Homo sapiens: one gene and its partners. The protein of the gene in region 3 purifies or fractionates together with the protein of the main gene of each other region. This does not show direct contact. Each region holds a gene or a part of one and is shown on either strand. Other genes may lie near its edges.

Evidence for each region. The genes of interacting proteins can lie anywhere in the genome.
Region 1: the proteins of CCT7 (region 3) and DCAF7 purify together in Homo sapiens (affinity purification with mass spectrometry; 5 studies listed by BioGRID and IntAct, with this or other methods). This does not show direct contact.
Region 2: the proteins of CCT7 (region 3) and TUBD1 purify together in Homo sapiens (co-immunoprecipitation; 4 studies listed by BioGRID and IntAct, with this or other methods). This does not show direct contact.

Annotation. Positions count from the first base shown.
Region 1 is NC_000017.11:63,574,463-63,581,484, forward strand, and holds part of DCAF7 (DDB1- and CUL4-associated factor 7), read left to right. Parts: intron 1-4,007; coding exon 4,008-4,166; intron 4,167-4,874; coding exon 4,875-4,986; intron 4,987-5,362; coding exon 5,363-5,481; intron 5,482-7,022. UniProt on the Homo sapiens protein: Involved in craniofacial development. Acts upstream of the EDN1 pathway and is required for formation of the upper jaw equivalent, the palatoquadrate. The activity required for EDN1 pathway function differs between the first and second arches.
Region 2 is NC_000017.11:59,889,936-59,896,917, reverse strand, and holds the start of TUBD1 (tubulin delta chain), read left to right. Parts: upstream 1-3,974; 5' UTR 3,975-4,221; intron 4,222-5,876; 5' UTR 5,877-5,915; coding exon 5,916-6,087; intron 6,088-6,982. Other genes in the region: RPS6KB1 (ribosomal protein S6 kinase beta-1), read right to left, coding at 3,593-3,733. UniProt on the Homo sapiens protein: Acts as a positive regulator of hedgehog signaling and regulates ciliary function.
Region 3 is NC_000002.12:73,230,199-73,237,319, reverse strand, and holds the start of CCT7 (T-complex protein 1 subunit eta), read right to left. Parts: upstream 3,013-7,121; 5' UTR 2,942-3,012; coding exon 2,936-2,941; intron 1,771-2,935; exon of another isoform or gene 1,675-1,770; intron 1-1,674. Other genes in the region: PRADC1 (protease-associated domain-containing protein 1 precursor), read left to right, coding at 4,160-4,226, 7,107-7,121. UniProt on the Homo sapiens protein: Component of the chaperonin-containing T-complex (TRiC), a molecular chaperone complex that assists the folding of actin, tubulin and other proteins upon ATP hydrolysis.

The DNA of each region.
Region 1 (7,022 bases), on a different chromosome or scaffold from region 3:
CATAAAATGAATATTTAGACTTAGTCATATGGATTTTTAAGAGTTAAACATGGATGACAAGATCTATGAATATATGTAGAAAAATCCTTAGGAATCTACAAAAAAGCTACTAAAACTAATAACTAATGTAGCAAAGTTATAGAAGCCAAGATTAATGTACAAAAATCAGTTGTATTTCTATATACAGTACCAATGAACAATTGGAAATGGAATTTAAAACAGTTTCATGGTCAAGCACAGTGGCTCATATGTGTAAGCCCAGCATACTGGGAGGCCAGAGTGGGTGGATCACTTGAGCCCAGGAGTTCAAGACCAGCCTGGGCAACATGGCAAAACCCTGTCTCTACAAAAAATACAAAAATTAGCTGGGTACGGTGGCTTGTACCTGTAGTCCCAGCTACTTGGGAGGCTGAGGTGGTAGGATCAATTGAGCCTAGGAGGTCAAGGCTGTAGTGAGCTGTGATTGAGCCACTACACTCCACCCTGGGTGACAAGCAAGATCCTATCTTAAAAAAAATAAAACACAATTTCATTTATAATAGCATAAAACTTGTGTAGAAATCAAGTTAATGGGCCAGGCGCAGTAGCTCATGCCAATAATCCCAGAACTCTGTCAGGCTGAGATGGGCAGATCACTTGAGGTCAGGAGTTTGAGACCAGCCTGGCCAACATGGTGAAACCCTGTCTCTACTAAAAAATACAAAAAATAAAAATTAAAATTAGCCAGGCGTGGTCACGCACGCCTATAATTCCAGCAACATGGGAGGCTGAGGCAGGAGAATTGCTTGAACCTGGGAAACGGAGGTTTCAGTAAGCGGAGATCATGCCCCTACACTCCAGCTGAGGCGACAGAGCGAGACTCAGTCTCAGAAAAAGAAATAAAGAAATAAAATTAATGAAAGAATCATAAGAAGTACACTGAAAACTTTAAAACATTGCTGAAAGAAATTAAGGCAGCCGGGCGTAGTGGTTCACGCCTGTAATATCAGCACCCTGAGAGGGCGAGACAGGCAGATCACTTGAGGCCAGGAGTTAGCGACCAGCCTAGCCGACATGGCAAAACCCCATCTCTACTAAAAATACAAAAATTGCCTGGGCGTGGTGGTGCGCACCTGTAGTCCCAGCTAAGGCATGAGAATCACTTGAACATGGGAGGCAGAGGTTGCAGTGAGCCAAGATCGTGCCACTGCACTCCAGCTTGGGTGCTAGAGCGAGACTCTGTCTGAAAAAAAAGAACTTAAAAAAGGCGTAAATTAATGGAGAAATGTGCTATGTTTATGCGTTGGAAGACTTAATATTGTAAGATGTCAGTTCTCCCCAGACTGCTCAATAGATTCAACACAATCCCAATCAGAATCTCAGCAGGCTTTTTGTAAAATTCGACAAGCTGATTGTAAAATGTACATGGAAAAGCAAAAGTAGAGAATAGCAAAACAATTTTGAAACAGAAGAACAAAGTTGGAGAACTCACTGTCTGATTTTAGAACTTACTAGAAAGCTACTATAATCAAGACAGTTTGCCTACTAGCAGACAGATAGGCAAATAAATAATGGAACAGAATAGAGTCCAGAAATAGATGAATAAATACATGGTCAACTGATTTTCAATAAAGGGGTCAAGGTAATGCAAAGGAGAAAGAATTCTCAACCAATGATGCTGGAAGAGTCAGACGTTCATATGTAAAAAAGCAAACCTTGTTCGGGAGCTGTAGCTCACGCCTGTAATCCTAGCACTTTGGGAGGCCGAGGCGTGTGGATCACCTGAGGTCAAGAGTTCGAGACTAGACTGGCCAAAATGGTGAAGACCCTTCTCTACTAAAAATATTAAAAAATTAGCCGGGCGTAGTGGCACATGCCTGTAGTCCCAGCTACTTAGGAGGCAGAGAGGTAGGAGAATTGCTTGAACCAAGGAGGTGGAGGTTGCCGTAAGCCAAGACTGTGCCCATTGCACTCCAGCCTGGGTGACAAGAGCAAAACTCCGTCTCAAAAGGAAAAACAACAACAAAAAGCAAACCTTGATTCATATCTTGTACCATATAAAAATTTAACTTGAAATGACTCAGAGACCTAAATATGAAGCCTAAAACTAGAAAACTTTTAGAAGAAAACAGGGAAAAATATTTGGGACCTGGGATTAGGCAAAGATTTCTCAACTAGGACATAAAAAATTTTTTGGGTGCGGTGCTTACGCCTGTAATCCCAGCACTTTGGGAGGCCAAGCCAGGAGGATCACTTGAGCCCAGAAGTTCGAGGCCAGCCTGGGCAACATAAGGAGACCCCATCTCTACAAAAAATTTAGAAATTAGCTGGGTGTGGTGGCACATGCCTGTGGTCCCAGCTACTCAGGAGGCTGAAGCTGGAGGATTGCTTAAGCCCAGGAGGTTGAGCCTGCAGTGAACCACGATTGCACCACTGCACTCGAACCAGTGCAACAGAGTGAGACCCTATCTCAACAACCCAAAATTATACTGCCACATTGCACATAATGCAATATTATTCAGCAGTAAGAAAAGAAGCAACTACTGATACACACAAGAACATGGATGAATCTCAAGAGCAGTGTACTGATGAAAGTAGCCAGACACAAAGACTCAAGACCATCTGATTCTATTTATATCGTATTATGGAGAGACAAAACCATAGATCAGTGGCTACTTGGGGTAGGTATGAGGGGTTGACTGCGGAGGAGCCTGGGAGAGCTTTCTGGGTTAATGGAAATGTTTTATATCTTACTGTGGGGGTTATACAACTGTACATTTGCCAAAACTCATTTAACTGTACACTTGAGTGGGTTTTATTATATGCAACTATACCTAACTTTGGGGGGAAAATGTCTGGAAGATACTGGTGTGTCTGAGACTGAGGTCAGAAAGATGAGTAGAAGGAATTTTATTTTGTGTTGTCTGGTTAGTGCTTTTCCCCTTATTGTGGATGTTTACCAAATATCCCCACTATTCCATCTTCCAGTTGGAAGTTCATAAGCAAATGTACAGTTAGTGTCCCATTGAGCCAGATTGAGTTTGACAGCAAAGATTGGAAGTTAATGGTGGGCTAAAATTGACTCTAAGAAAAAGTGATCAGAGCTAGGTGGGACTTTCTCATCAATGGCGCCGACTTTTTTTTTGCCAGTCACAGTGGTTTGGGCTCTCAAACGGTCATTTGACATACCTTTATGTGTAAACATAATGAGCCAGTGTTGAGTTTGGGGTTGGTGAGGGTTGTGCACTATTGGATTTTTAAGTGAGCATTAGTTTGTTTAATGAAATTGCAAAGGGTGTTTCATATTCCTGGCCCCTGAGCACCAAATGTCCTCAGCACTTCAGTCATTGTGGCAGCCAAGAACCACCCCTGGTCATTTTCAAATACCTTAGGGGTTTCAGGGGAAGGTGTGCCTGGCCTGGCAGATAGTGCACTTATGTAGTTGGAGTCAAGAATGCAGACTTGAGTCAGAAAACCTGTAATCTCTGTCTCCTACTGGCTTTGCAGTGTTGAGTGTAACCACCCCTTTGAGTCTGGGTGTCCTTGTCTGCCAGAGGATGGTTGGACTAGATACCCTCTCATGGCAATCGTTTTTGATTCTGCAGTTTAGTGTAGTACAGTGTCAAGACTTCTGTCACTGGCCAGGCATAGTGACTCATGTCTGTAATCCCAGCACTTTTGGGAGGCTGAGGTGGGAGGATCAGTTGAGCCCAGGAGTTCAAGGCCAGCCTGGGCAACATGTGAGGCCTTGTCTCTACAAAAAATGAACAAAATTAGCTGTGTCTGGTGGTGCATGCCTCTAACCCCAGCTACTTGAGAGGCTGAGGTGGAAGGATCACTTGAGACCAGGAGGTGGAGGCTGCACTGAGCTGTGGTTGCACCACTGCACTCCAGCCTGGGCAACAGAGCAAGATCCTGTCTTTAAAACAAAAAACAAACAAAAAAAACCTCTGTCACTGACCAGGGATCTAATGTATTTGCTGTACTGCTCACAAATGCTTATGTGGCTCAACTTTGGTATGTTACAGGTTCAGCTTGTTGGTTTAGATGAGGAGAGTTCAGAGTTTATTTGCAGAAACACCTTTGACCACCCATACCCCACCACAAAGCTCATGTGGATCCCTGACACAAAAGGCGTCTATCCAGACCTACTGGCAACAAGCGGTGACTATCTCCGTGTGTGGAGGGTAAGCGGATGCTTTATTAGCAGCCAGACAAGTGGGCTTTCTCAGCCTCAGCTGTTAGCAGTGAAAAGTCACAGAACAGACAGGGGTCAGAGGCAGCGAGTGTCATTGCAGCACAGGAGAAGCAAGCGAAGCTTAAATGGACTGGCCTCGTTTGGCTCAGCAGATTTTCTAGTATATCAAGTCAAGATTCCATGAAGTCTGGCTGCTGGCTGCAGTCAGCTCAGTCAACCCGAGGTGATGATGACGGCCTTCAGTGGAGGTGGGAATACTTGGGAACTCATATTCTGTTTGCAGCCAAGGTATTTTTGAGTAAACTAAATGAAATACCAGGCCATTGATTCTGATAAAGTGTGTGAGTGGATCTTGGAGGCTTCCCTCCACCCTCAGCTGAGCTCATCAGCAGCAGCGTCCTCTGTAGCATGGGCGTGGCCTTAGTACACCTGTGCAGAGGTTCCAGGCTGGGCAAAGTGAGAAGACCTCTCCTCTAGGAAGGTGCAGGGATGAAAATGTAGAAAACAAAGCTGGGCAGAGGAGAAAGTATGGGAAAAAGTAGCATTCAGGGAGTCCTGGGTTTATTACTGTTTTTGATAAAAATGTTTTCCCCTCATGTCTTATGTTTGCTAAGATATTTTCTAAACAGGGATTTTTTAAAAGACTTTTTATGAGGATAAGACTGGCTGATTTTTTTTAAAATTCTTGTTCCTTCAGGTTGGTGAAACAGAGACCAGGCTGGAGTGTTTGCTAAACAATAATAAGAACTCTGATTTCTGTGCTCCCCTGACCTCCTTTGACTGGAATGAGGTGGATCCTTATCTTTTAGGTAAGGGAGTTAGGGAGTATGTATTTCAGCTGGAAGAAGCCAAAATAAATTTTCTCAGATGTCACACTGGGCCATACATCCTAGAACAAGGCTCAGTGGGAAGTAGGCTAGGCGTGGAATGTGGTTATTTATTAATTCCTTTGTGTGGGTGAGCTTTCCGTGTGTATAGATCTTGTCTCTCCAGTTAGAATCTAAGGTCCTACGGTGAGGACTGAAGACTTGACTGCCTCGGTGGCTCTGCCGGTAGCCCCCACCTTGTTTTCTGTAGTCTTTATGGTATGCTGCTCCCTGGGCTGAGCAGATGAGTAAACACAAGAGGGAAGCTTGCATGAGAACCTTGGTCCCGTCAGCCCTGACTTGCACTGGTTGTTTGCAGGTACCTCAAGCATTGATACGACATGCACCATCTGGGGGCTGGAGACAGGGCAGGTGTTAGGGCGAGTGAATCTCGTGTCTGGCCACGTGAAGACCCAGCTGATCGCCCATGACAAAGAGGTAAGATGCTTTTCCATTTCGTCTTTCCTCAAATGCTTCCTGTGCCTTCCGCACAGGAAGAGGTCAGCTTGTTCTCTCATTGTTCTGCAATTTATGTAGAAAATCATAACATAACATCTTCTTGTCTAAATTGACAATAGTAATGTATCAAAAACGGGAAAACAACACTATTGTAAACTAATGCTTTTTTTTGGCTAATGTAAATGACCTATTCTACGGTCTGTCATTGTTCTTTTCATGCCAGAGGTTGCTTTTTTTAAATAACAAAGTCTCTTATAGAGGAGCTGGGAACTGATGTGATTAAAAAATAACTTTAGAGTAATACTTATCTTGAAACAGATTAGATTTGGGGAGGAAAGAAGGGAGACAGGAAGAGAAAAAATTTTCTGAGAGACAAACGTAATTATTCATTTTTCTCTATAAATGTTTTACCAAATCCTAGTATGTTCACTTAATCTTTATACTTTCATTACTGTTGGCAGTGGAGGCAATGGAATATATTTTATTTTGATGGCGATGCTTCTGTGTTTATTGGGAAAACTGAGAAGAGCTATTTGTGATTGCTTTTTTTTTTTTTTTTTTTTTTTTTTTTGAGACAAAGTTTTCCTCTTGTTGCCCAGGCTGGAGTGCAATGGCGCAATCTGGGCTCACTGCATCCTCTGCCTTCTGGGTTCAAGCAATTCTCCTGCCTCAGCTTCCGGAGTAGCTGAGATTACAGGTGCCCGCAACCACCCCTGGCTAATTTTTGTATTTTTTAGCAGAGACAGGGTTTCACCATGTTGGCCAGGATTGTCTCGAACTCTCCTGACCTCAGGTGATCCACCCACCTTGGCCTCCCAAAGTGCTGGGATTACAGGCGTGAGCCACTGCGCCCGGCCAATTGCATTTTAATCAAAGCATTCTTCTCAGTGATTTTGGAAAATCCCCATAAGTCTTTTCCTCCTACAGCCATTGCATGCTCCTGGTACTCTCATCTCCTGTGGGTACTATTTCCTGTTCTTTTCTACCTTACCCTGCACAGCTAGGGGTATTAATATCTATACAGATAAAAGGAATGCCTTGATCTTAGGTCAGAAACTTGAGGTTGTCAACAGCATAGGAAGATGTGACCCAGGTTATCATTCTTAGTAAGGGGTTGTCTTTGGCTTTCTGTACTCCTGAAGGTAAGCCCTGTTACAAGACTTCTAGAGTTGACTGCTGCTAAACCAGGGGTCAAATGAAGAGTTTGTCCCACAGAGAGGACCAGTAAGGAACTTCTGGAAACCCTCTTGGCATCAAGTTGAACAAGCGGCTACATTTTAGTTATATGACAACTTAGCCTGCTGTTGTCTGTTAGGTCCAACCCAGAAAATGGGAACTACTCTTAAGTATTTGAACTGCAGGGATTTAATCCAGGGGCTGCTTATACAGAAGATGGTAAAGCTGAGAAGCCACATAGGTAGCAGTGAGGTCATCCATAGAATGGGAGCAGCAGGAAGCTGCAGCTGCCTATAGGCCAGAGGGACCATGGGAGGAGGCAGGGTTCCTGGAGCCCAGGGGCT
Region 2 (6,982 bases), on a different chromosome or scaffold from region 3:
TATTTCAGGGTAATCTGGATGTCACCGAATCTCCTTGGATTGTCAACCCAATCGTACTCCAAATCTTCCATTATCCATCTTGAGGCACCTCTTAGAAAAAATAACACACTAAAAAGAAATATTTTCAACTCCAAAAAGTGTTGCTAAGACATATTTTACAGAAGTCTCTTCCTCAAAATCCTCTTTAATTGCCTTTGCTCTTTCCCCAGACTTTCTCTCCCCAAAATCGGGGCCATATTTCTTTCTCTTTCCTATTTCCACCAATTTTTCTGACCTCCTCCTCACACCTTCTCAAAATCCTACTTGCTTGTACCCAGCAGGACAAAAGCCCTGGAACACCTACTGTTCTTGAAACACAAGAAAGTGAAAAGAAAAGTCCCAGTTTACACAGGAATTTTAACAGAGTACTGTACTTTCAAAAAAGAATAAACCTGGCTGGGTGCGGTGGCTCACACCTGTATTTTGAGAGGCCAAGGCAGGCAGATCACCCAAGTTTGGAAGTTCCGGACCAGCCTGACCAACATGGAGAAACCCCGTCTCTACTAAAAATACAAAAATTAGCCGGGCCTGGTGGCGGGTGCCTGTAATCCCAGCTACTCGGGAGGCTGAGGCAGGAGAATCGCTTGAACCCGGGAAGTGGAGGCTGCAGTGAGCCGAGATAGCGCCATTGCACTCCAGCCTGGGCAAATAGAGCAAGACTCTGTCTCAGAAAAGAAAAAAAAATAAAATAAAATAAACCCAGTCTGGAAATTCTATCAGTTCAACTAATGAAGATATAAAGCACCTTCCTATCCAGTTTTCTCCCCTGCCCTGCTCCAAAGCCACTGTCATAGAGAACCAACATAACTGATAAAGAGTATGGTATATGGTATAAATAATGAAAGTAATCTCATATTTGTTTCCAATTGTAACTAGTGTACCATTATGTTCGATTAAGAGGCTAATTGGAATTCTGCATGAAAACATCATTGAAAAAGCACACACCAACCGGATGCAGTGGCTCACGCCTGTAATCCCAGCACTTTGAGAGGCCAAGGCTGGCAGATTGCTGGAGCTCAGGAGTTCAGGCCCACCCTGGGCAACATGGTGAAACCCCATCTCTACTAAAATACAAACAATTAGCCAGGCATGGTGGTGCGCGCCTGTAGTCCCAGCTACTCGGAAGGCTGAGGCACGAGAATCGCTTGAGCTCAGGAGGCGGAGGCTGCAGTGAGCCGAGATCAGGCCACTGCATTCCAGCTTGGGCTACACAGTGAGACTCCATCTCAAAAAAAATTAAAATAAAATAAAGTAAAAAGCCTGGTGGGGTGGCTCACACCTGTAATCCCAGCACTTTGGGAGACTGAGGCAGGTGATCACCTGAGGTCAGATGTTCAAGACCAGCCTGGGCCACATGGTGAAACCCCATCTCTACTAAAATACAAAAAAAGTAGCCAGGTGATGTGGCGCGCCCCTGTAATCCCAGCTACTTGGGAGGCTGAGGTAGGAGAATCGCTTGAACCTGGGAGGCAGAGGCTGCAGTGAGCCGAGATCGCACCACTGCACTCCAGCCTGGGTGACAGAGGAAGACCCTGTCTCAAAAAAAAAAAAAAAAAAAAAGCCAGGCGCAGTGGCTCACACCTGTAATCCTAGCACTTTGGGAGGCCGAGGCGGGCAGATTACGAGGTCAAGAGATCGTGACCATCCTGGCTAACACAGTGAAACTCCATCTCTACTAAAAATACAAAAAATTAGCCAGGTGTGGTGGCACGCGCCTGTAGTCCCAGCTACTCAGGAGGCTGAGGCAGGAGAATCGCTTGAACCCAGGAGGCAGAGGTTGCAGTGAGCTGAGATCACGCCACTGCATTCCAGCCTGGGTGACAGAGCAAGACTGTCTCAAAAACAAAACAAAACAAAAAAACCAGAAAGAAAGAAAAGAAAAGAAAAGAAAAGAAAAAGCACACAACTCAATACCCACTTTCTAAACCGTGTGATTTTGATTTAGTCTTATTTGATTATGAAAAGAACAGTATTGGTCAGGTATGGTGGTTTATGCCTATAATCCCAGCATTTTGGGAGGCCGAGGCTGGTGGATCATTTGAGGTCAGGAGTCCGAGAACAGCCTGGCCAATATGGTGAAACCCTGTCTCTACTAAAAATACAAAAATTAGCCAGATGTGGTGGCGCATGCCTGTAATCCTAGCTACTTGGGAGGCTGAGCCATGACAATCGCTTAAACCCAGGAGGCTGAGATTGCAGTGAGCTGAGATCGCACCATTGCACTCCAGTCTGGGTGATAGAGTGAGACCCAACTCAAAACAAAACAAAAGAAACAAACAAGAAGAACAGTATTATTTTAGGCCACTTAGTTTCTTAAAGTGTTCAAAATTCTTTATATACATCATCTCAATCTTTTGTCAACAGTAGGGCAGGTGCCAGAGGAGAAAAACTGAGGGTGAGGCAAGGGAAAGGAAGCCCCTGTGTAATTAGAGCAAACATCTGACGTCATTAACCCATGTATTCAACTAGACATTGGAATTTAGATGCTAAACTACCAAGAGGTTATCAACTGATGATCATTTGGTCCAGGATCAGTGATTTAGTATGACAACATTTTTGAACTTCAGGTGCAATTTGTCATTTTTTGATAAATTTATCTAGGGAAAAAAAAAGTTATTCCATAAAGATTAACAAACCACTAAGCCAGCAGGGTGAAACCAAGCTATGCATTAGGAAATACAATTCTAAATTTAGCACCCTAAATTACAGCAAGGAAAGCCCTCATACCACCATTCACAAGTCTCTGTTCAGGCAACTTATTTCTGGCAAGCTAAATCAAGGCTGTCAACTGGTTTTTGGTTTTTTTTTCCACCTCAAAATTACATTAATTATTCTGAAAAAAATACAGACATCTTCAACTTGGGGAAAGGTTACAAGTGCCGTGTGTCCTTATAAATGCTTATTTTAAAAAGTCACACGGAAGGGGGTAAAAAAAAAAAAGCAAACAAACAAACCCTGGAAGATTGGAAGATGCAGCAGAGCCCCCTTGCTCCCGAAATAAAACTCCTGGTGGCTGTAACAGCAGCGGCAGTGCTACTCCCGACAGAAGTTTTCAGCTGTCACTTCTAACAGCTGAGCGCTTCCTAGGAGAGAAGCGACAGGCCGAGAAGAGAGGTGGTTGTGGGAGGTCTGAAGATTCAATACTTGAAATTCTAGACTCGAAGGGAAACCCTCCACACTTCGCCTGCACTTACGGGACACCCAGCAAGAGCAGCCCCCGTCTCCCCAACACACGCTCACGCCACCCGCTCCCCGCCACACTCAAGTCCAACAGCTCGAGGAATCGACCACGCGCCCGTTCTCTTTCCCTCTTCAGATCGCTCGGGGCTGCGCTGACCTGGGGCTAAGGGTGCGACCTGCACCTGCGAGCCCCGCAGAGGCCTCACACCTAGGGCCATGACCGCCCCGCCCGCTCCCCTGTCTCAGGCCGCGCGACCCTCAGCTCCTCAGGAGCCCCCCTGGGTCTCCACGCTCTAGGACACACCGCGCTTCCTGAGCCCGCGCCGCCGCCCCGGCCCTGTCACCTCGGGCCCCCGGGGACCCCGGGCCTCACCCCCTCCTCCAGCTCATCCTCAGAGCCCGCGTCCTCTGGCTGGTCCAGGTCTATGTCAAACACTCCTGCCATGTCCTCAGCTTCCCTGTCTCGGAAGTCCGGGGCTGGGTAAAAGCCGTCCCGCCTCCTTCGTCGCCTCATGGGCCCGGACCCGCCGCAGCCACCACAGCCGCTGCCGCCATCACCGGCTGCTTAGGCTCAGTGCGTCTGCGCCTAGGCCTTAGACTGGCTCCTAAAGTTCAGCGTAGGAGCATGCGTACAGGGTTCCGTGAAGCCAAACAGTGGGCAGTGGACATGCGCAGAACTATCGGCAGGATCCAGGCGCTGGCAGAAACATGCGCAAAACACCAGCCGAAGTCGCGCTTGGAGGACTAGAGCATGCGCATTGTCAGCTGGAGCGTTCGGTGGACAGTGAGCATGCGTACCATATCTGAAGTTCGTAAATTGAAATTGAACATGCGTAATTAATCTTTCTGAATAGGAAAAAATATATACACAACAAAACTCTCCGTTTATGGAACATGCGCATTTGTTCTCAGTAAGTTTTTCGTTTTGAAAGTGAGCATGCGCATGGTGAGTAGGTTGGTCCGAAGTTTGAACCGGACAGAAGCGCTGGTCGGCGTCTGGCGGTGAGTCGGGTTACGTGTGGAGAACTCCTGGGGCCCGTGGGGAACGGGGGACCTTTTGGCTTTGCTCTTTACTAGTTCTGTGGCCTTGGAAAAGTCAATAACCTTTCAGAGCCTCAGTTTCCTTATCTGTAAAATGAGGATAATAATAAACCTACTTTGCCGGTTTGACATTTTAAGCACAGAGTCTGTCTCACAACCCACGGCTCATTTCCAGTGCTGCATAGACCTGATGTGAAGTCTTTATCAAAACTTGTCTTTTCCTAGGTAAAAATAATGAGGAACTGCTCTAATGTTTCTTTTGCTTTCTTTCTTTTTCAAATGGAGACAGGGTCTCGCTGTGTTGCCCAGGCTGGTCTGGAATCCCTGGGCTCAGGTGATCCTCCCGCCTCGGCCTCCCAAAGTACTGGGATTACAGGCATGAGCCATTGCGCCCGGTTAATATTTCATCTGGTTTTCTTTCTCCAAGCTGCATCTTTCTTGCTGTCCTACCTGAGCTAAACACAAAATCTTTCTTACAGGTCTTACTAAAGTTACCAGGCTAGACTAGTGGAGAAAGCGTAAGCTATTATTTAGAAGAGAGAAAATTAATGTTAATTGAATGTACAATGTTGAGCACACTTCTGTGTTCTACATGTTCATGTGGTGTGAAGGGTGGTACTACTAATTTCTTCAATCAGCATTTGTTTTGTCTTGTTTTTATTTTTTTAATTTTAATTTTTTTTTTTTCTGGAGACAGGAGGATGTCACTTTGTCACCCAGGCTGGAGTGCGGTGGCAAGATCTTGGCTCACTGCAGCCTGGACCTCCCAGGCTCAGGGGATCCTCCCACCTCAGCCTCCCGAGTAGCTGGGACTGCAGGCGCACACCACCACGCCAAGCTAATGGTTGTATTTTTTGTACAAACAGGGTTTTGCCATGTTGACCAGGTCTGGAACAGCCAGGCTCACGTGATTCTCCCAACTCAGCCTCCCAAAATGCTGGGATTACAGGTGTGAGCCACGCACCCAGCCTCTTTTTTTCTTTTATCACTCCTCAACTGAGGAGAATGTTTTGTTTTAAACATATGTTTAGGAAAAAAGTGATTACAAATCAGATTTTGGAAACTATTGAGCTGTGTATGAATGGATTCAGGTACAGTAAATCACAAATCCCAAAACCATGTAGAGAGTATGAGAACTTCCTTGAATGACTAGCTCCTTAGACAACACAGCTGTTCTATCTCCAATATTATATACGTATGTGGCATTTTAAAATGACTTTTTGGGCCGGGCGTGGTGGCTCAAGCCTGTAATCCCAGCACTTTGGGAGGCTGAGGTAGGTGGAGGTGGATCACGAGGTCAAGAGTTCAAGACCAACCTGGCCAACATGGTGAAACCCCATCTCTACTAAGAATACAAAAATTAGCCAGGCGTGGTGGCACGTGCCTGTAATCCCAGCTACTCGGGAGGCTGAGGCAGGAGAATCGCTTGAACCTGGGAGGCGGAGGTTGCATTAAGCCGAGAACATGCCACTGCACTCTAGCCTGGGTGACAGAACAAGACTCCGTCTCAGGGGGGAAAAAAGACTTTTTATTGATGTATAATTAACATACATGGCATTTTATTTGTTCTTATTAGTAATGTAGTGGTTCTCAAAGCGTATTTTTTTCGATTACAGGTTGTTTTTAGAGGTAATACACCTAGTTTGTGGCTCAGCATGTCAATTGTAACAGTGCAACTTGGTCAGTGTGGCAATCAGATTGGTTTTGAAGTTTTTGATGCTTTGCTTAGTGACTCACACAGTTCCCAGGGACTCTGCTCTATGAGAGAGAATGAGGCATATCAAGCATCTTGCAAAGAAAGATTCTTCAGTGAGGAGGAGAATGGAGGTAGGTGTGGCCCACAGTCCTCTCCTTTACTCTGATCTAACCAACCCCTTCAAAGCCAGGCCTTCCACATGGTTTTTAAACCCCATTCCTTCCCATCTCACTAGGGAATTACTTTGTTTTTGCTTTTCATTTCTATGTTAATAATCTTTGCTTTTCCAGTGGCATTTTCCCTTCTGCATGCTCAGATCTCACCAATTTAAAACCAACCAAACAAAACTCATCTATTGACTGGCTTTCTTCTTCTTATCTCTTTGCCTTTCATCTAAGATTCTCAAAAGAGGACCCTGCTGGCTGGGCGTGGTGGCTCACGCCTGTAATCCCAGCACTTTGAGAGGCCGAGGCGAGTGGATCACAAGGTCAGGAGTTCAAGACCAGCCTGACCAACATGGTGAAACCCCATCTCTACTAAAAATACAAAAATTAGCTGGGCGTGGTGGCATGTGCCTGTAATCCCAGCTACTCGGGAGGCTGAGGCAGGAGAATCACTTGAACCCAGGAGGCAGAGGTTGCAGTGAGCCGAGACCGCACCACTGCCCTCCAGCCTGGTGACAGAGCGAGACTCCATCTCCAAAAAAAATAAAAGGACCCTGCTTAACCACCTATGATCCTGCTTCTGCCCCACATAGCATCATTGAAGCTGCTCTAAGAAAAGTTTCCAGTGACCTCCGAATCACCAGATCCAACTACTGTTTTTCTTTTCTTTTTTTCTTTTTCTTGTAGAGACAGGTTCTTACTACACTATGTTGCCCAAGCTGGAGTGCGGTGGCTATTCACAGGTCTCCTGAGTAGCTGGGACTGCAGGTGCATGCCACCATGCCTGGCTCTTTCTTTTCTCTGTCTCTCTTTTTTTTTTTTTTTTTTTTGAGAGAGTCTCGCTCTGTCACCCGGGCTGAAG
Region 3 (7,121 bases):
CTGCAAAGTGTACCCCCATCTAAAATAGTCACTCTGCCATCTTCTACCAAAACCACTTTCTCACCACCAGGCCACCAATTCCTCAGAGCTCCAATTCTTCCAAGAAGTTTTCTCTACAGTAATAAACAAGGGCATCTGAATAGGGGAATCCCATAACTTTCTCTTCACTTGCCCTTGCTCGCAACTTTTTATCACCATCCAGCTTAAGTACAAGCTTTCCAAAGACAAGGACCAAAATAACCTTAATTTGAAGAGTGCCAAGATTTGGCCACACATGAAGCAATATTCAGCAGCTTTTGGGGCTGAAAATCCAACTGCTACTTGTAAGTGCTTGACAGCACTGGCTTCTTGACTTTTGGGGAGAAAAGCACTGGCACTACAGTAACACTACATTTACTGAGAGTTCTTAAGCACAATGCAAGAAGAGCTTGGAAGCAGCTAACCACAGATTCCCCAGGTTCCCTATGCTTTGCAGGCCCTGAAGAAACAGCAGGCTGGGTAGAGAGCATCTATGGGGTGGAAAAGGTGGCAGAGCTGGATTGAGTCAAGCCAAGACAAGCAGGATAGGTCCTCTTCTAACAGTTCCCCAGCAGCAGGCACTGTATGCAAAGTCCAGTTTCCATCCCTTAGTTACTTTCAACCTCGCTCCTTTTTTTTATTCCTCTAATAAATAAGAAACAAGGTCGGGTGCGGTGGCTCACGCCTGTAATCCCAGCACTTTGGGAGTCCAAGGTGGGTGAATCACAAGGTCAGGTGTTCGAGACCAGCCTGGTCAACACGGTGAAACCCCGTCTCTACTAAAAATACAAAAATTAGCCAGGCGTGGTGGCGTATGCCTGTAATCCCAGCTACTTGGGAGGCTGAGGCAGGAGAATTGCTTGAACCTGGGAATGGAGGTTGCAGTGAGCCAAGATGGTGCCACTGCACTCCAGCCTGGGCAACAGAGCAAGACTCCATCTCGGGAAAAAAAAAAAAGAAAAAGAAACAAGAGCAGACTCCAGTAATTGGCCACAGGTATAATGGAAGGTTTTGGAATTTCAGCTTACTGATCTTCCTCTTCATCCTACTTTAAAACTTTCACTAAGCATCATTAAGCTTAATGGCTTACAAAACAAGTGTGTCTATGCCAAGGCACACAGCGCTCAACGCCACAAAGGCAAGGACATACATTTTATGCAAGCTGTACCAACATCACAGGACTGAGGTTTCAGGGGACCTTTTCACCTCTCTTTCGATTACAGAAGTATTCTAGAATATCAGGGGCCAATTTGAAGACAGGAAGACTCTTGGAGATAGAAGTTTCACATTCCAAAAATGGGGAGGAGATATCAAGAGCCAATACAGCAGGGAAACGTCAATCTGACAGAGGAGGGGTCAGTTCAGGGAAAATCCAAGTGTGATGATCTAGAGCCCACTGGTGAAGTTTTATCACGGCAGAGAATGGCGGTTCTGATCCCTAGCTGTGTGAATGTGAACCAAAGCTCTTACGGAAGCCCTGGCAGCGGGATGGACTGATTTCAGAGATGAAAGGAAGCAAACAACCACCTCGCCGAGTAAGAGCTAACATTGCTGAGTGCTTACTATCTGCTAGGCACACTGACAAACTGAGAACCAGAAATTAAATAACATGCTCAAAGTCACACAGCTAGTAAGTGGCAGAGCTAAGTTACAAACCTAGGCATTCAGTGTAGCTCCAGAGGCCTTACTCTCAACTGCTGTACTATGCTGCCTCTGCACAGAAGATGAAGACGACTTCAAGAATGAGCAATGCTAGAGACATAAAGGGGAGAGGAAGTACTGTTAAATGCTAATTTCCTTCTACCTTGGGTACAAGCGGGATTCATAGGGCATTTGGTAGAACACCTAAAAGGTGTCTGCGTCCCTAACAGGACAGAGAAAAGCTGCAGGAAGCAGGAAAAGAGCAGAAGATAGAGTCGGACAGGCCAAAATGAATAAGTGAACTGCCAAGTGCACAGAAAGCAGTATCTCAGTCAGGGTCAAACACCACCTCGGAAGCTGGCCCTACTCAATAACAACCCAGGAGATACCATCGAGGCTTGGGACCCACGGAAAGTATCTAAAGCTCCGAGAGACAGAGAAAAGAAGTGTGGGAAGTAGGGCTACAAGGAGCACTTTAGGTGGCTCCAGGACTCACAGCAACTCCCTCGCCCCAAATTTCAAGAAAACGAGACCCAGAGTTAGGTAGCCAACTAGAAAAGCCTTTCTTATGTCACCAGAGTCCGAGCCTGGGTCTTCCCACCTCCGATACAGTGTCTCCATCTACCTTTCCCGTTCTCCTGGCTGAGAGGCTGCAACCCCCAGCAACCACCAGGGCCTGGTACATTCAGTAGGCACTAAAGACGCGTTTATTTAATGACTGAGCGAATGAGTGAATGAATTAAAAGTACTAGGGAAGGCGTCTGCTTCTCTGCACGCTGCGGTGAGGGTCAGCGAGTGAACATAGTGAGTCCCTAGGCGGGCACAATATGAGGTCCCCAATGTGCCTGTGCCGGTTCCAAGAAGCACACGTCTTTACAGCCCGCAAATCTCAGAGCAGCCCCAGCTTCCAAGTCTAGCTGCCGACCGCGTAACCACGGCCGACCTGCACTCGTTTCACGCAAGTCCCGATCATGCGGGGCTAAAAAAGAGGTCCCCGACGTGGGTTCGCGGGCCCGAAGCACCCTGGGACTTGTAGTCCCCAACCGGCCAGCCCAGAGACTCCTCTAAAGCCCCACGCAGCCCTCGCCAACGGCTCCAGCGCCGTGCTCGGGCCGAGCCAGGCCGCGGCTGGCTGGGGTCGCCCCTAAGCTGGGGATCTGGGCGAGGACAGAGGCGGCAAGCAAAAGAGGGTCCTACAGAGCAAGCCCAGGCCGAGCGGCGCCGGCCACCGGCCAGATGGCAGCTGATGGCGACGGATGCGCGAGACGCCACTCACCATCATTTTGGAAGCTTATTCAGCGGCCCGCCACTCTCCCCTCTTCTCCGAGACCGGGCCGCCCAGCAACCCACAATGCCTCGCGCAATAGAAATACCCAGAAGCTTGGGCCGGGAGAGGAAGAGAACGGACCACTTCCGCTACTCTATGGTTCGTTACCACCGACTCGGTGCGGCTAGAAGGACCTGAGGCTGGGCTTCGGGGACTCTCTAGTGAGGGGCGTTCATTAAAGAGGGGTCGCCGCATTTCGGTCGTGCTTCTTAGAGCACGGAGGGTCTTTGCTCGGCCCGCATCACCTACTAACTTAATTCCACCCTCCTCCATCCCCGGACGCCAGACCAAGGAATGCAATAAAGGCAAAAGTGTGGGACGCAAAGTGTGGGATAGGCTGGTGCCAAAGCACTTTACGTGAGCGATCTCATTTAATCCTCACAACCCTATTGCGTTGGTCCTATTAAGGCCATTTTACTGATGACAGAAAGGAGGCTGAGAGGTCAAGGTGTCCAGTGTCACAGTTACATAGTCAGTGTCAACGGGACGAGCGTGGGAAGCTGCCCCCAATGCCCGTTTTCTGGCTTTGCACTGGCCAGAGGCTCCTCGTGGATGGCGTGCGCCAGGCCGCGGCCCCAGCGCCTATCCACGGTGAGCGCGCAAGCGTTGGTGGCACTGGGCGGAAGACCCCCTGGCGCAAGACGAGTGCCTTCCCGTGAAGGCGTGGGGAGGAGGGAAGCGCAGCTGGGAGGAGGGAAGCGCAGCTGGGAGAAGGCTAATCGTCGTCAATCGAGGCGGCCTTGGAGTGGACAGGACCGAGACCGCAAGGGTTAACGGCCTCGACTATCGACAGCTGAAGCAAGTCCGGCTACGGGCACACCTCCAGTGCTTGTCCTCCCTGGCCCGCCCACCGCCAGCGAGGACCCGGAGAGTATGCTGGGGCGGGGCTGAGGCGAAGGCCGGTTGTAGCTGTTAAGAGTTTAAGCCAATCAGCCCCCGGCTCCACTTCTCTCGACCAATAGGAAGTAGGCTAAGGCGCAGAGGCGGAAAGTGTGGCTACATGAGCAGGCGTCAGAGCCAATCAGCCTTGAGCCTCGTTCCCGTCGTCCAGCCCGCGGCGAGAGCGGGTATGTGGGCGGGAGGCCGGAGCAGCTGTCAGGCTGAAGTCCTGCGAGCGACGCGCGGCGGGGCGGCGAGAGGAAACGCGGCGCCGGGCCGGGCCCGGCCCTGGAGATGGTCCCCGGCGCCGCGGGCTGGTGTTGTCTCGTGCTCTGGCTCCCCGCGTGCGTCGCGGCCCACGGTGAGCGGCAACGGGTGGGACTGCGTTGCAGGGCGGGGCTGGCCGTCCAGCTTGCGCGCGTCTCGGGTTGGGGGCCAAGGGTCACCTTGGGGACCCTGCGAGTTCAGAGCAGGACAGGTCTGGGAGCGGGCGGCCGGAATAAGTGGGTGGTGGTCCAAGGACATAAAGTGGGCGCAGCCTGAGGCTGAAGCTCTGACTCCTCACCTTCCCACGACAAAGCAGATCTCCCCACTCGCCCCTCCCCGCCCACTAGCGCCGACCCAGGTGACTTAGGGTGCGACCAGAAGGGACAGCTAAGGAAGGATACTACAGGCTGGAGATATGTATGTGAGCATTCACATGTACACAGGAGCACACATTCCTACACGTGGGCACACACGCACAAACCGTTTACACCTACACAAGCACATAAATGTATACATCTATGCACATAAGTGAGCACATACGTATACCCACAACTTACACAAATAAGCACACACAAAGGCAAGCAAGGGTTGGGGAGGAGGGAGTGAGTTTGACGCTAGTCCAGGAAGGCTTTCTGGGGGTGTATTTGTATCCGAGAGGGAGTCCCCACTCCCAGGACTGTATAGCCCAGTGCCAAGCCATGGGAGCTCTAACTGATGGCTGTGATTTGGGCAGTAAACAAAGACAGCTAAAGCCTTAATGCCATCCTTGGTACACAGTAGTGACTTGGTAGTTTGTTGATAGACTAACAGACTTGTGACAGCAGTTTTCTTTTTTTCTTTTTTTTTTTTTTGAGACGGAGTCTTGCTCTGTCGCCCAGGTTGCAGTGCAGTGGCCCGATCTCGGCTCACTGCAAGCTCCGCCTCCCGGGTTCACGCCATTCTCCTGCCTCAGCCTCCCAAGTAGCTGGGACTACAGGCGCCCACCACCACGCCCGGCTAATTTTTTTGTATTTTTAGTAGAGACGGGGGTTTCACCGTGTTAGCCAGGATGGTCTCGATCTCCTGACCTCGTGATCTGCCCGCCTCGGCCTCCCAAAGTGCTGGGATTACAGGCGTGAGCCACCGCGCCCGCCCATGACAGCAGTTTTTATCTTTCAACATTCCGCAGTCTCTCTGGGTTAAGGAAACCAGGGACTCAAGTCCAGGTACAACATTAAACTTTGGTGCTGAGGAGAAGATCCCATGCCCCAGAAAAATCTAGTGGTCTGGAAATTCTCTTCATCGGTGCTGTGGAGCTAGATATAGTTGTTCACCCATTCAGGAAAGTTTATAGGGCTATCCCTATATTGTAGCCACTGTGCAAGACACTGGTGACTCTTCACTGAATGAAGTTACAAAGTGGAAGAGGCAGATATTTAAAAATTATGAATCCAGGGCAGGTGCGGTGGCTCACGCCTGTAATCCCAGGACTTTGGTAAGCCAAGGTGGGAGGATCACAAGCCCTGGCAACAAGGCGAGACCCCATTCCTATTTAAAAAATGAAAAAAAAAAATCAGCCTGGTCAACATGGCGAAACCCTCTCTACTAAAAAATACAAAAAAAAATTAGCCAGGCATGGTGGCGCACGCCTGTAGTCCCAGCTATTTGGGAGGCTGAGGCATGAGAATCGCTTGAGCCTGGGAGGTGGAGGTTGCTGTGAGGCGAGATGGCGCCACTGCACTCCAGCCTGGGTGATAAAGTGAGACCCTGTCTCAAAAAAAAGAAAAAGAGGCCGGGCGCGGTGGCTCACGCCTGTAATCCCAGCACTTTGGAAGGCCCAGGCGGGTGGATCACGAGGTCAGGAGATAGAGACCATCCTGGCTAACACGGTGAAACCCCGTCTCTACTAAAAATACAAAAAATTCTCCGGGCGTGGTGGCGGGCGCCTGTAGTCCCAGCTACTCCGGAGGCTGAGGCAGGAGAATGGCGTGAACCCGGGAGGCGGAGCTTGCAGCGAGCCTAGATCGCAACACTGCACTCCAGCCTGGGTGACAGAGCGAGACTCCGTCTCAAAAAAAGAAAAAAAGAAAAGTTATGAAAGCTGTATAATTACAAATTATGTTGAAAGTCCCCATTTATTAAAAAGTACATTTGAATGGGTATGGGAGGGCAATCATGAGGCAGAAGCTTTCTCTGAGGAAGTGACATTTAAGGTGTGACCTGAAGGATGACTAGGAAAGAGTCAGGTAAAGGGGTGGAAGTAGGGTGGCGTGGGAGTAGGGGGCCTTCCAGGCTCAGGGAACAGCCTGCAGAAAGACCCAGAGAAGTGAAGACACTGAAAGGCCAGTGTAGCTTGAACACAGGATGGAGGAGATGAGGTTGGAAGAGTGGCCAGGGGCCACAGCAAACAGGGTCTTGTAGGCCACAGTTTAAAAAGAGTTTAAATTTTAAATGCAAAGGGCAGTTATTGAAACCCTAGGTATGGTGATGTGCTCATAATTGCTAAGATGTTTTCGATTTCTGGTTGTTGCTTGGGGAGCAAGAATGGAGGCAGGGAGGCCAGGTAAGAAGCTGAGCTGTCAGGACAAGAGATGATAGTGACTAGACTTAAGGGGATGGCAGTGGGACCAGAAAGTCAACTTTTAAATTTTAGTGAGAATTGCTTTGTACGCAGGCCACTACATCTCTACCCTGAAACTCCCAGGTCTTCAGAGCAAAAATACTAACCCTGGAGCTCTCAGTTTTCCTGGCTTACTGCGTAAGCAGCAGCAGCAGCTGATATAAGCCTCTGGGGTTAATGACTCTGCATCAACTCTATCCTCCCCAGGACAGAGGCCATCTAGCCCCCAACCCTGCCACTAGTGGACCCCGTTGGCTGAAGCCAGGACCCTGAGCCCAGACTATAGCCAGCCCAGCTGAAGACACAGGGTCTGGGATCTGAACCTGAACCAGCTTGTTCCTGGGAGGCTTCTTACCTGTACTCTTTATCCTTCAGGCTTCCGTATCCATG